Homo sapiens: one gene and its partners. The protein of the gene in region 2 interacts with the protein of the main gene of each other region in a biochemical or structural test. Each region holds a gene or a part of one and is shown on either strand. Other genes may lie near its edges.

Region 1 (3,752 bases), on a different chromosome or scaffold from region 2:
TAAGCCCCAAGTCTTCCCTTGGTATAGCCACTGGATATACTCAGCTATATTCTGATGTTCCCACTTTCCAGCTCCTCCAAACCAATGCTCTTTGAACTAGGCAGAGAATGTCCCCAGATCATTCTTTCAAATGAGCTGGACTCTTCTGCAGGACCAGCTACATAATGTGCAGGGCCTAGTGCAGATGAAAATGTGGGGCCCCTTGTTCAAAAATATCACATATTTCAAGGTGGTGATGGCAGAACATGAAACCAGCTCAGGGGCTTCTGAGCACAGGGCATTGTGTGCCTGCCCATGACCAGCCCCGCTCTCCCGTCATTAAAACTCGTGCCCCTTGGGTCAGCCTCACCTCACTGATATTCATGGCATTCAGCTTGGCCAGCAGGACTTCAGGGAGGTCAGCAGTCGGTGTGTAATGATGCTTTATGTTTTCTCCTTGTTCCCTGTATAATCTCTGTGGATGGAAGGAGGTTTTGCATGAAACCTAGACCCCATTCCATGCAGCCATCAGCCAGGTTACGCTTCAAGAGTCCAAGCTGCTGCAGCTGCCACCTCCTCATAGAGACATGATTTCGGGCACCCTGCCTCCACCCAGATTTTACAGCTAGCACGGTGACACGCATGTCATTTCCAAGCTCTGCTTCCTAGCTCAGAACATGACAAGCTGAAGCATTCCCCTCAGTGAACGCCCCACTCATAGTAAACTGCTGAGATGGGTGTCAAATGAGAAAACGAGGTTTACTTAACACCTAGTAATAATTTGGTGATTAACTATCAGCTATGAGATGGCATCAAGATACAGAAGGCGAGAAAGAAGATGGCTCTTGTACAGGTGAGGTTTTCTCCTCCCTATCTCAATCCTCCTCCGTTCCCCCGTCTCAAATATTCTTCCCCTAAGACATGTCTCCTGGGTGGATCTGGGACTCTATTTACCCAGAACTCTGACCCAAGCTTCGGATACCCTGATAGTTAATAATGACACATGCAGTTGGCATCAGCCACCAGAGAAAGTTTCCAAACAGGGTTTTTCCATCCCAAATCTTATCAGATGTATCCAAGTTTCTACGTATCACAGCAGTGCCCCCTAGAGTTGGCTAGGATAAGGAAGAAACAGGTATTGTTTTTCTTCATACAAAAGTTCTTGTTTGACCATCTGTGTTTCTCAGAATTCAGTTTGATTCTGATGGGCTGATTATGAAGAAGTTATAAATTCCTAAATCCATAAGCTTGTAAATCATCCCATCCCAGATTCTGACAGGCACTCAGGCTGTTTCAGAATGCCTGTCAAATAAAGCGCAACCAGAATCATTTGCTCAATTGGGAAACAAGGAAGAGAATTTTGAAAGCTATGCCCCCAAGGTTTGTAAATTTTCCCCATGGAAAGTTGAATGGTTTGAAGGTATTTAAAAGCCAGGTTTGCCCTGCACAAAGATCCATGGGTATCTCTTAGCAGAATCAGCCAAACAGGGTTAATCTACATCACAAAGTGTTTTTTTTCAGCACCTCATCGTTCACTTTAGTCTCCAGCCGACCCTGCAACCCTGCACCCCAGCCAACCTTTCCCACAGAGGGAAAAGGGTCAAATCTTGGTTTTGCATCATAAAGGAGTATGGGAAATGGCTTGAAAGTTAGTCTGATGTATATAAATCAGACCCAAATCATGTTCAAAGTCTCTGGGAAATTCATAGAGCAACAATTGCTGCCCTTGGGTCCTAAAGAGCTCTAAGCACAGCGTCAGGATTCCAATTACCAAGAATTTCACCCAGTTCTGAAAACAACACTTTCAGGCAAAAGGAGAGGAGAAAACAGCCTCACCACGAATGAATCGGTGAGACATGCAAATGGGAAGGAGGGAGAGCATCTTGGGGCAGTGGGGTGGTGGAGCCCCACTTGGCATTCTAAGTGCAGTAACACCCCCATTTGCATCCTAATGAGGAAGCACCCCCCGCTAAGGGAGCCTCTGCAAAGGACAGGGAGCGCCTTCATCCTTAGGACAACAGAAGGAGCAAACCCAAGAACCCCTCCGCTTCAATCGCAGTGTTGAAAGAAGAGCCCACTCTTAGAGTCATAATGTATATACATTATCACTTACATCCACTGCTTGGGTATAACTAATTCTGGCCTGGACCATCTCCGGAGTGTCTTTAATACTGGTAAACTTCAAAGCATCTGGATGCTGACGGTACTTCTTCTGTTGAGCAGAAAAAGATCAAAGCTGTGAATTTTGTGCTGCTCTTTCATGCCATTTGAAAGAGAAAATCATAGGTTGCTTGAGATTAGAGTGAATTTGTGAACACAATTATTATTCTGCTTCCTCCATCTTTATATCCTAGGTGCCTTCAGGTTAATATTTGTTTCAATTTAAGAATAACCTCATGTCAATTAACATTAAAGTATTTCTACCTGGTGCAAAGAAAACATCTCAAAATTAGGTTATACTAGTAAAATACTGTAGGATACACACTTAGAAAAGGATTCTTTTTATAGGCTTCAAATACTTTGTCGCAGTTGTTTACATATCTTAGTTTGGGTCTTCTAAGCAAGAAAGAGCATTCAGAGTTACATTTATCCATTTAAGCTTTCTATTTTCCTTCCACAAAAAAACACTGACAGACATTATTGCAGTCAAAACCCTCACATTCAGCAGCCCGCGAGCGTATGCCGTCCAGTCACATTAGAGCCTAGTTCAGTTAACACAGGAAATAATTCTTTAAAATATTACAATAACAGGAAAAAGGGTGCTATTATTCAAAGGAGTCATCACACAGTTTGAAAGACACTGAAGCAAAAAAAAAAAAAAATCACAAAAATGCTGGCAAAGACCTAGATACCCAATTTTGAAGTATTCTGAAAATCTGTTTAAATTAATTTCTTTTTTAAAAATCAAGGTACATTTTTAGGAGACAGAAACCATAATTACTTCAATGAGATCATAGAGTTTATGCTTTCCAAAGCAGAATAATTGTCTTAAACACACTCTTCTTTATCTGGTTGGATTTTTGTACACTGGGTTGTCTTAAGACAACACAAATCAATAGCCAGCTAAATCTAGCTCACCACCTGTTTCTGTAAATAAAGTTTTATTGGAACATGGCCATGCTCATTCACTTACGTGCTGCCTATGGCCATTTTCCAGCTAGTTGTGACAGAGGCAATATGACCTACAAAGCCAAAACTATTTACTATCTGGTCCTTCACAGAAAAGGCTTTCTGACCTCTGCTTTGGATCGTAGGTGTGCGTGTGCATTTGTGGCTCTTTCAACAGTGCCGGGCATTCTCTCTGGAATTAAGAAGGTGGCCCAGGCCGAGTGCAGTGGCTCACGCCTGTAGCCCAGCACTTTGGGAGGCTGAGGAGGGCGAATCACCTGAAATCAGGAGTTTGAGACCAGCCTGGGCAACATGGTGAAACCCCGTCTCTACTAAAAATACAAGAATTAGCTGGGTGTGGTGGTGGGTGCCTGTCATCTCAGCTACTCAAGAGGCTGAGGTAGGAGAATCGCTTGAACCCAGGAGGCGGAGGTTGCAGTAAGCCAAGATCACTCCACTGCACTCCAGCCTGGTTAACAGAACAAGACTCCATCTCAAAAATAAATAAGTAAAATAAAAGAAGGTGGCCCAATTCGACAGTAACTTGTAAATGTGACAGCCTAAAATGAGATGGGGGGGAAAGTTGCTGAAAGATGCCTTGCCTTACTTACTAAACTTTGAGGACTAGTATGAGACAAGCCCATCAAAGAGGATAAGCAAATTTG
Region 2 (3,752 bases):
AGCCTGGGCTCATTGCCACTGACCACAAACGACTGAGTTGTTCAGAAAGGGAACAAAGCCAAGTCATAAGACTCCCTCACATTTTCTGGATCATAAAGCAGTTCTACATGCATTGTGATGAATTGTATGTACCCAGCATTGAGATTTAATCCCAGATGTAAACTGAGGACACAGGCCATCCCCAATTTCCCACTCTTCGTGCTGTTCACTTATACCCTTCCCTGCATAGAGCTGCCTCTACCTCCCTCCAGCCCTGACATAGGAGATGGTCCATACATGCTTATTAAATTACATTGAATCGTATTGCAGAGACAAGGTTCCTCAGACCAGTAACTCAACTCCTCCTTCTTGGAGGAGTCACCACCTTGGCTCAGGAACAGGGCAGAAATTAGAGTCGGCAGCTTGGATCTTTCAGCAGCATTTCCACTCAGACCATTGCTTAAAACCTCTTCTTATTCTCAATCACACCTATGTCTGTCATTCACTGGGATATTTTAAAAAGTCCTTGACTAAAACCTAGAGGAAACAGTGGGAATCCTAACCACTGGATAAATTATCCTCCCATTTAATAGAGCTTTTAATATATTTCAACATAGCAATGTCTTTTTGGGGTCCAGTTTTGATTAATTTCAAAAGATTAAAAGCAAACTTGTTGCTGAATATCTTTGGGATACAAAAGTCTATTTAAAATCAACAAGCCCAAAATCTCAGTCATTCACCACGACCTTTTGAATAACACCATTCCAGGTAAATTGAGCATGGGAAAGCTGTCTTATATATTGCATCTAGTACAATCGCTTATCGCTTTGTATCTGTGCAGTACTTTACAGTTTGGAAAAAATGTCGCCAATTTGTATTGATCCTTGCAGAAGAGGAGACCAAGCCCCTGAGGGCAGGAACCTTCTCAAAGTCTGTCATCCATGAATTATATGGTGGTTGTAAGACGAGAAGGTCAGCAGACTTTCCATTATTTCCTCCCGCTTTCCAGTTGTTCCAACTAAGATGACAGGAAATGTAATTCCACCACGTAAGTAGTTTTATAATGAGGATAATTCTTTACTCATTTATCTGCCTATGAGGTCCCTTAAGCCCCCTAAATATTAACCATCCTTGCAGGAATTTTTTAATACCTGCTAGATCCACACCAGAGTCAAGTACAACTTGAGCCTCCTTGCACAGAACCAGAGAGGGTGCTGGCACTTGAGACGTAAAATGTGCTCTTACTCTATGGGACCCTTTATAGTCCAAACCAGCCACAGAACCAACCCACCTCCAGCTCAAATGTCTGCCTTGCTCCACTCACCTGCCTGTGTGGACTCCGTTCAGCTCAACTGAGTCTGAGGGGCTCTTGTCCTCTTTAAATATATGAAGGCTGTCACCAGCCTTGGCCTGCTGGGGGAAGGGCAGGAGGGAGGCCAAGGGAGAGGGTGAATGAGACGTGAGTAACACAACTGCTATCAGGGGCTGAAAATAGACTGTGACCAAAGCCCTGAGTTTTGTCTCCCCCAACCCCCCAGCCAGCTGTGAGCCTCTTGGAGAACCGAATCACTTGGGTTCTATTTGCACTGCCAATTGCTTATGGCACCAAGGGATCAATTTATGAAGTGTGTCATTTCTGATCAAGTGGTTGGAACAGGAACAAGAGCTAAGGGTTTAACATCAAAAATCATTTCTCCAGGCCCCCACCCCACTGACCTTCCTGGAAATCATTGCAGGGTACCTGCAAATGAGTCATGTGCCATATCTGGGAGCCTCTGGAACTTAGAGCCACAGGTCACCACACTCGTGAAGAGAACTCAGAGCTAAAAATAAGGGTGATGGGTGTCTGAAACGATACTTAGATAATCTCTTCAAAGAAGCTTGGGAGAAAAAAGGTTGGCACATCACTTGGGACCTGTCACTCCATCTATCCTAGGAAACGAAGTTTTCTCTAAAAAGTTTTGATTTACTTTGTTATTATCCTTTTCTATTTAAGAATTTGATACAGCAGTGCATATTTATCATCATCACATTATATTTATAACATCTTGATATGTCTCTGTAGACCCATATTTTCTTTGGAGGTCTAATTTTTCTTTGTCTGGAATTCACACCGTTTAAATTTGATCAAGCACCAGGGACTGATATAAATTATGGCATTGAAAAGCTGACAAGAGGTTCAGAGATGTGAAGACCAATTCTTCATGTTATAGATGAGGAAACTGAGGCACCAAGCCCCTTCCACTCATGTTGACCCGGATGTTGAGGTAAGGTACATGTAGAACCCAACCGGGAGGTTCATGATCCAGCCTTCACATCAGATATTAGCCCTTTGGTTACCTGCCCACAAAGCAATTGTTGAAGGATAGAATATTTCACTGTCAAGAAGGTTGCAGTAATTTCACAAAGACGGCCGTGGCATAGCCTCCTATGAGATATCCGTGGTCTGTGTTTTCACTAAATGGCATCTTCATCATAAAGACGAGGCAATCACGAGGATTTTAGAAAGTTAAAGCTAGAAAGGACTTTAGAAATCGTCTAGGATAGTGGCTTTTGTTTGTTTGTTTGTTTGTTTGTTTAGAGAAATGGTCCCGTTCTGTTGCCTAAGCTGGAGTACAGTGGCATGATCACAGCTCACTGCAGCCTCGATCTTTTGGGCTCAAGCAATCCTCCTGTCTCAGCCTCCTGAGTAGCTGGGACTATAGGCGCACACCAGCACGCCTGGCTAATTTTTTTGTAGGGATGTGGTTTCACCATTTTGCCTAGGCTGGTCTCAAACTTTGGGGTCAAGTGATCTGCCCACCTCGGCCTCTCAATGTGCTGAGATTACAGGCTTGAGTCACTGAAACTGGTCAACCAATAGTAGCTTTAAAATTTTTTTTGTGTGTGTGTTTGCATCAGAATACTTTTTTCTGTAGATAAGAGGAAAATCAGTATATAAAGCAGATAAAAGAGGAGCTTCCAGTGATGATGAGCATTTTTTCATGTGTCTTTTGGCTGCATAAATGTCTTCTTTTGAGAAGTGTCTGTTCCTATCCTTCGCCCACTTGTTGATGGGGTTGTCTGTTTTTTTTTCTTGTAAATTTGTTTGAGTTCATTGTAGATTCTGGATATTAGCCCTTTGTCAGATGAGTAGATTGCAAAAATTTTCTCCCATTTTTGTAGGTTGCCTGTTCACTCTGATGGTAGTTTCTTTTGCTGTGCAGAAGCTCTTTAGTTTAATTAGATCCCATTTGTCAATTTTGGTTTTGTTGCCATTGCTTTTGGTGTTTTAGACATGAAGTCCTTGCCCATGCCTATGTCCTGAATGGTATTGCCTAGGTTTTCTTCTAGGGTTTTTATGGTTTTAGGTCTGAGAAATGCAAATCAAAACCACGATGAGATACCATCTCACACCAGTTAGAATGGCGATCATTAAAAAGTCAGGAAACAGTTGCTGGAGAGGATGTGGAGAAATAGGAACACTTTTACACTGTTGGTGGGACTGTAAACTAGTTCAACCATTGTGGAAGTCAGTGTGGTGATTCCTCAGGGATCTAGAACTAGAAATACCATTTGACCCAGCCATCCCATTACTGGGTATATACCCAAAGGATTATAAATCATGCTGCTATAAAGACACATGCACACTTATGTTTACTGTGGCACTATTCACAATAGCAAAGACTTGGAACCAACCCAAATGCCCAACAATGATAGACTGGATTAAGAAAATGTGGCACATATACACCATGGAATACTATGCAGCCATAAAAAATGATGAGTTCATGTCC
Region 3 (3,752 bases), on a different chromosome or scaffold from region 2:
TCCAAGGCTATTTCTCCCATTTGGTCTGTTAATTTAACTCACCTCTTTAGATTCAGACTCCATGAGAAGAGAGATTTTTTTTAATGCTTTATCCTTAGCACCTAGGACACTATCTGGCACTTAGTAGGTACCCAATAAATGCTGAATAAAAAAAATTAGTCATTTTTATCTTAATGTTCTTAATGATTTTTATCACAATAATCTTAGTTAACTTTTCAAATTGTCTTCACATTTACAAGAGACAACATAAAGTGTGGTTAAGAGCACAAGCTAATTTTCTATAATAGATGTTAGATTATACCCTGAGTTGCTGAAACTTTCAATCTGCAGTTTTAATTGCTGACTTGAGCAACCAAGAAACTGGCGAAAATAGAAAAAAAAAAGTCACAGAAGAAGTATTGGCCTCTTGCAACTCTTCTCTCTCCTTCTTACCATTCCAAAAATCTAAGAATAGTATTAAACTTGATAAGGAATAAAAACAGCCAAAAATATCAAAGCTTAACATCCAGTCTGTGGCTCAATAGAAACTGTGAAGAATCATCTTCTAGAATAGGCGACTTGATTAGCTAATTTCTAAATTATCTGACAGTTGATTTCCTGCATTATCTTCACTCTATTCATTTTTTAAAATAAAGTCATAAAGAACACAGCTTATAATCATTACTGCTTGGGGTAGAGCAATAAGATTTTATGTTCCCACATAGTTTTTGAGGCACTGACTATAAAGACCAAAACCAAGGTCAACTGACATCCCAAAGGCCAGTTACAGCTAGGAAGTCTTTCTAGAGCTCTAGGAGGAAAGGTGAAAGGAAGGGAAAGAACAACAAAACAGAGAGAGGGAAGAAAAAGAAAAACCTCTCCAACAGCTATGCTTTATTTCATTCATAGGAATGAGTCTTTGCCCTAACATGGCTTTATACTACAAATGATAACTACTGTTCATCAAGCAGCTATGTGCTATGTGTTTCACATGCATGGTATCATTTGATTGAATCCTCACTAAAACTGTAAGGAAACCACTATCATCTTGAAGACATCAAGATCTAGTACTTACCCATGGATATATACATAGAAATTAACCTTGCTAGGACTTGATAGTTCTTTGGAATCTAGGGCCCCCGCACTTGACCTTCATATTGTACTGTCTCCCGAAGAACAATACATGTATCTTGTGGACCATGGGCAAGCTGCAATTTAAAAAATGCTGTTTCCTTGCTCGTGCCTTGGTTGCTAACCTTTCTCACTTAAATCCTATCAAACAACTTATTTGGAGTCAATGGATAGTGAGAATGCAAAAGAAAAAGTGGTGAGCACACAGTGTGCAGAACTGGAATCATAAGAGAGGCACCTTGGAGGGGGCCACAAGTAAATGCTGAAATATCAAGTAGCTGTGGTGTGAGTCTTGTTTTCACTAAAACTATTTTTAAGGAGGAGTTACTACATGTATTGTAACCCCATCCTCTATCCCACTCCCTACCTCATATGTAATACTGCTCCACAAATGGAAGGGTACAGAATTCAGATCCTGGTTGCCCCTCTCCCCAAAGGAAAAAAAAAAAAAAAAGATAGTCAAGGACGGTCTCTATGGAAGGACCCAGAGAATCATTTCATCCAGTATCATGGGATGTGAGCACCCTTCAGCAACCCCCTCCATTTCCCAAATCATCTTGCAGCCTTAGTAAAAGAGAGGAAAGAGATTTACCTGCTTCTATTGAGGTTGAAGCCTGAAAGTCATGTATAACCTTTGAAGCACTGTAATGGTTTTAATCACAGGAATAGCATCTTTTTGAGAGGCAGGAGAGAGAAAGGAGCTGAACCACTCTGCAAATATTAACCCGGCTATTTTGGAGCAATGGCTATTGCCTTTGAAATCTTTCATCATGGGTCTATACTTAGAATTCAGATGAGCGCAGGGGGAGGGGAATAGGGCAATGTTAATCCCCAGTTGTTTTGAAGTTGTCCTGTAAGCAGGTTAGTATCTAAACTGCCCAAAATGGAAGGGTTCAATGCTTTGTTTAAGTTATGTGATTCTCTCTGTGTAACCTGGTCTGCACATAGATTGTCACAACACTCTGGGAGGTGACACTTCTCAGTTTTCTTTCAAACTAGATGTTCTAGAGAGCACTAGCTGCAATCACATTGGGAGACTGATGCTCCATGACAGCTAAAAGTTGGATTGAGTTTCAGGAGCTACTATATATAAAGCTGGGTCGACTTATGTCACTGCACTAATTAAATGCCATCTGGGTGGTTCCTCTGGGTTTTTGAGTCCATCACCCAGTTCAGATCGAGTCAGAGGCCAAGGAGGAGAACATGATGATGGACCTTTTTGAAACTGGCTCCTATTTCTTCTACTTGGATGGGGAAAATGTTACTCTGCAGCCATTAGAAGTGGCAGAAGGCTCTCCTTTGTATCCAGGGAGTGATGGTACCTTGTCCCCCTGCCAGGACCAAATGCCCCCGGAAGCGGGGAGCGACAGCAGCGGAGAGGAACATGTCCTGGCGCCCCCGGGCCTGCAGCCTCCACACTGCCCCGGCCAGTGTCTGATCTGGGCTTGCAAGACCTGCAAGAGAAAATCTGCCCCCACTGACCGGCGAAAAGCCGCCACCCTGCGCGAAAGGAGGAGGCTAAAGAAAATCAACGAGGCCTTCGAGGCACTGAAGCGGCGAACTGTGGCCAACCCCAACCAGAGGCTGCCCAAGGTGGAGATTCTGCGGAGCGCCATCAGCTATATTGAGCGGCTGCAGGACCTGCTGCACCGGCTGGATCAGCAGGAGAAGATGCAGGAGCTGGGGGTGGACCCCTTCAGCTACAGACCCAAACAAGAAAATGTAAGCCTAGATGCTGCCGGGGCAGGGAAATGCGAAGGCTGATTAAACGCCTTCCGCGGGGCCTTAACCTCCAGCTGCTTGGTCTTTTTTCCCTTCCCCCTTTCTCGCCCGCCCCTCCCGCTCCGTCTCTAATGAACCCCCAGTGACCCAAGAAGACCGGGTGCTTGCAATAGGCAGGAAATGCGTACCCGGCCCGAGGAAGCAGGAAAGCCGCCCCCCACCCCACCCCAACCCCGGAACCGATGTTTCTTTCCTAATCTGCCGCTGCCTTGGTTTTCCCTCCAGCTTGAGGGTGCGGATTTCCTGCGCACCTGCAGCTCCCAGTGGCCAAGTGTTTCCGATCATTCCAGGGGGCTCGTGATAACGGCTAAGGAAGGTAAAGTAAAAGGGCTCTGGGCCGCACCAGAGAAAATCCGGGAGGTGGATAGGATGCTTGGGCCGAGAGGGCTCGAAGCGAGAGCAGGGACGCGCCCTGCGAAAAGGGCGCTCTTTGCGCGCCGGGACCAGGCCTTTCCTCGCTGCCAAAGCGGCCTCGCGCGGGGCGCGGAGCTGCTTCGTGTTCCTTCTTTGGGTGCTATGTTTGTGTGTTGTTTTTTCGCTCAGGAGGAGCAAGTATTGATTCGTCAGCCTCGAGTAGCCTTCGATGCCTTTCTTCCATCGTGGACAGTATTTCCTCGGAGGAACGCAAACTCCCCTGCGTGGAGGAAGTGGTGGAGAAGTAACTGAGCCTGCGCTTGAGACCTTCTCCACGCAGCAGGAAGATCCCACCGACCCTTCCTGGCCTAATCCTTTAGATTAGGTCACATTACATTAACATTTAGGAACCCAGACCGAAAAGTTGCTGAAAGGGAAGGAGACACATTCACAAAGAAACGTTGCGAAAATTGCGAAATCTGTTGTGCATGCTCAAATGAAAACGC

Evidence for each region.
Region 1: the proteins of CSRP3 (region 2) and NRAP form a complex in vitro, tested with the Homo sapiens proteins (one study listed by IntAct).
Region 3: the proteins of CSRP3 (region 2) and MYF6 form a complex in vitro, tested with the Homo sapiens proteins (one study listed by BioGRID).

What each region holds. Positions count from the first base shown.
Region 1 is NC_000010.11:113,615,363-113,619,114, forward strand, and holds part of NRAP (nebulin-related-anchoring protein), read right to left. Parts: intron 2,192-3,752; coding exon 2,093-2,191; intron 455-2,092; coding exon 350-454; intron 1-349. UniProt on the Homo sapiens protein: May be involved in anchoring the terminal actin filaments in the myofibril to the membrane and in transmitting tension from the myofibrils to the extracellular matrix.
Region 2 is NC_000011.10:19,200,651-19,204,402, forward strand, and holds the start of CSRP3 (cysteine and glycine-rich protein 3), read right to left. Parts: upstream 1,334-3,752; 5' UTR 1,304-1,333; intron 1-1,303. UniProt on the Homo sapiens protein: Positive regulator of myogenesis. Acts as a cofactor for myogenic bHLH transcription factors such as MYOD1, and probably MYOG and MYF6.
Region 3 is NC_000012.12:80,705,407-80,709,158, forward strand, and holds the start of MYF6 (myogenic factor 6), read left to right. Parts: upstream 1-2,227; 5' UTR 2,228-2,313; coding exon 2,314-2,832; intron 2,833-3,117; coding exon 3,118-3,208; intron 3,209-3,435; coding exon 3,436-3,554; 3' UTR 3,555-3,752. UniProt on the Homo sapiens protein: Involved in muscle differentiation (myogenic factor). Induces fibroblasts to differentiate into myoblasts. Probable sequence specific DNA-binding protein.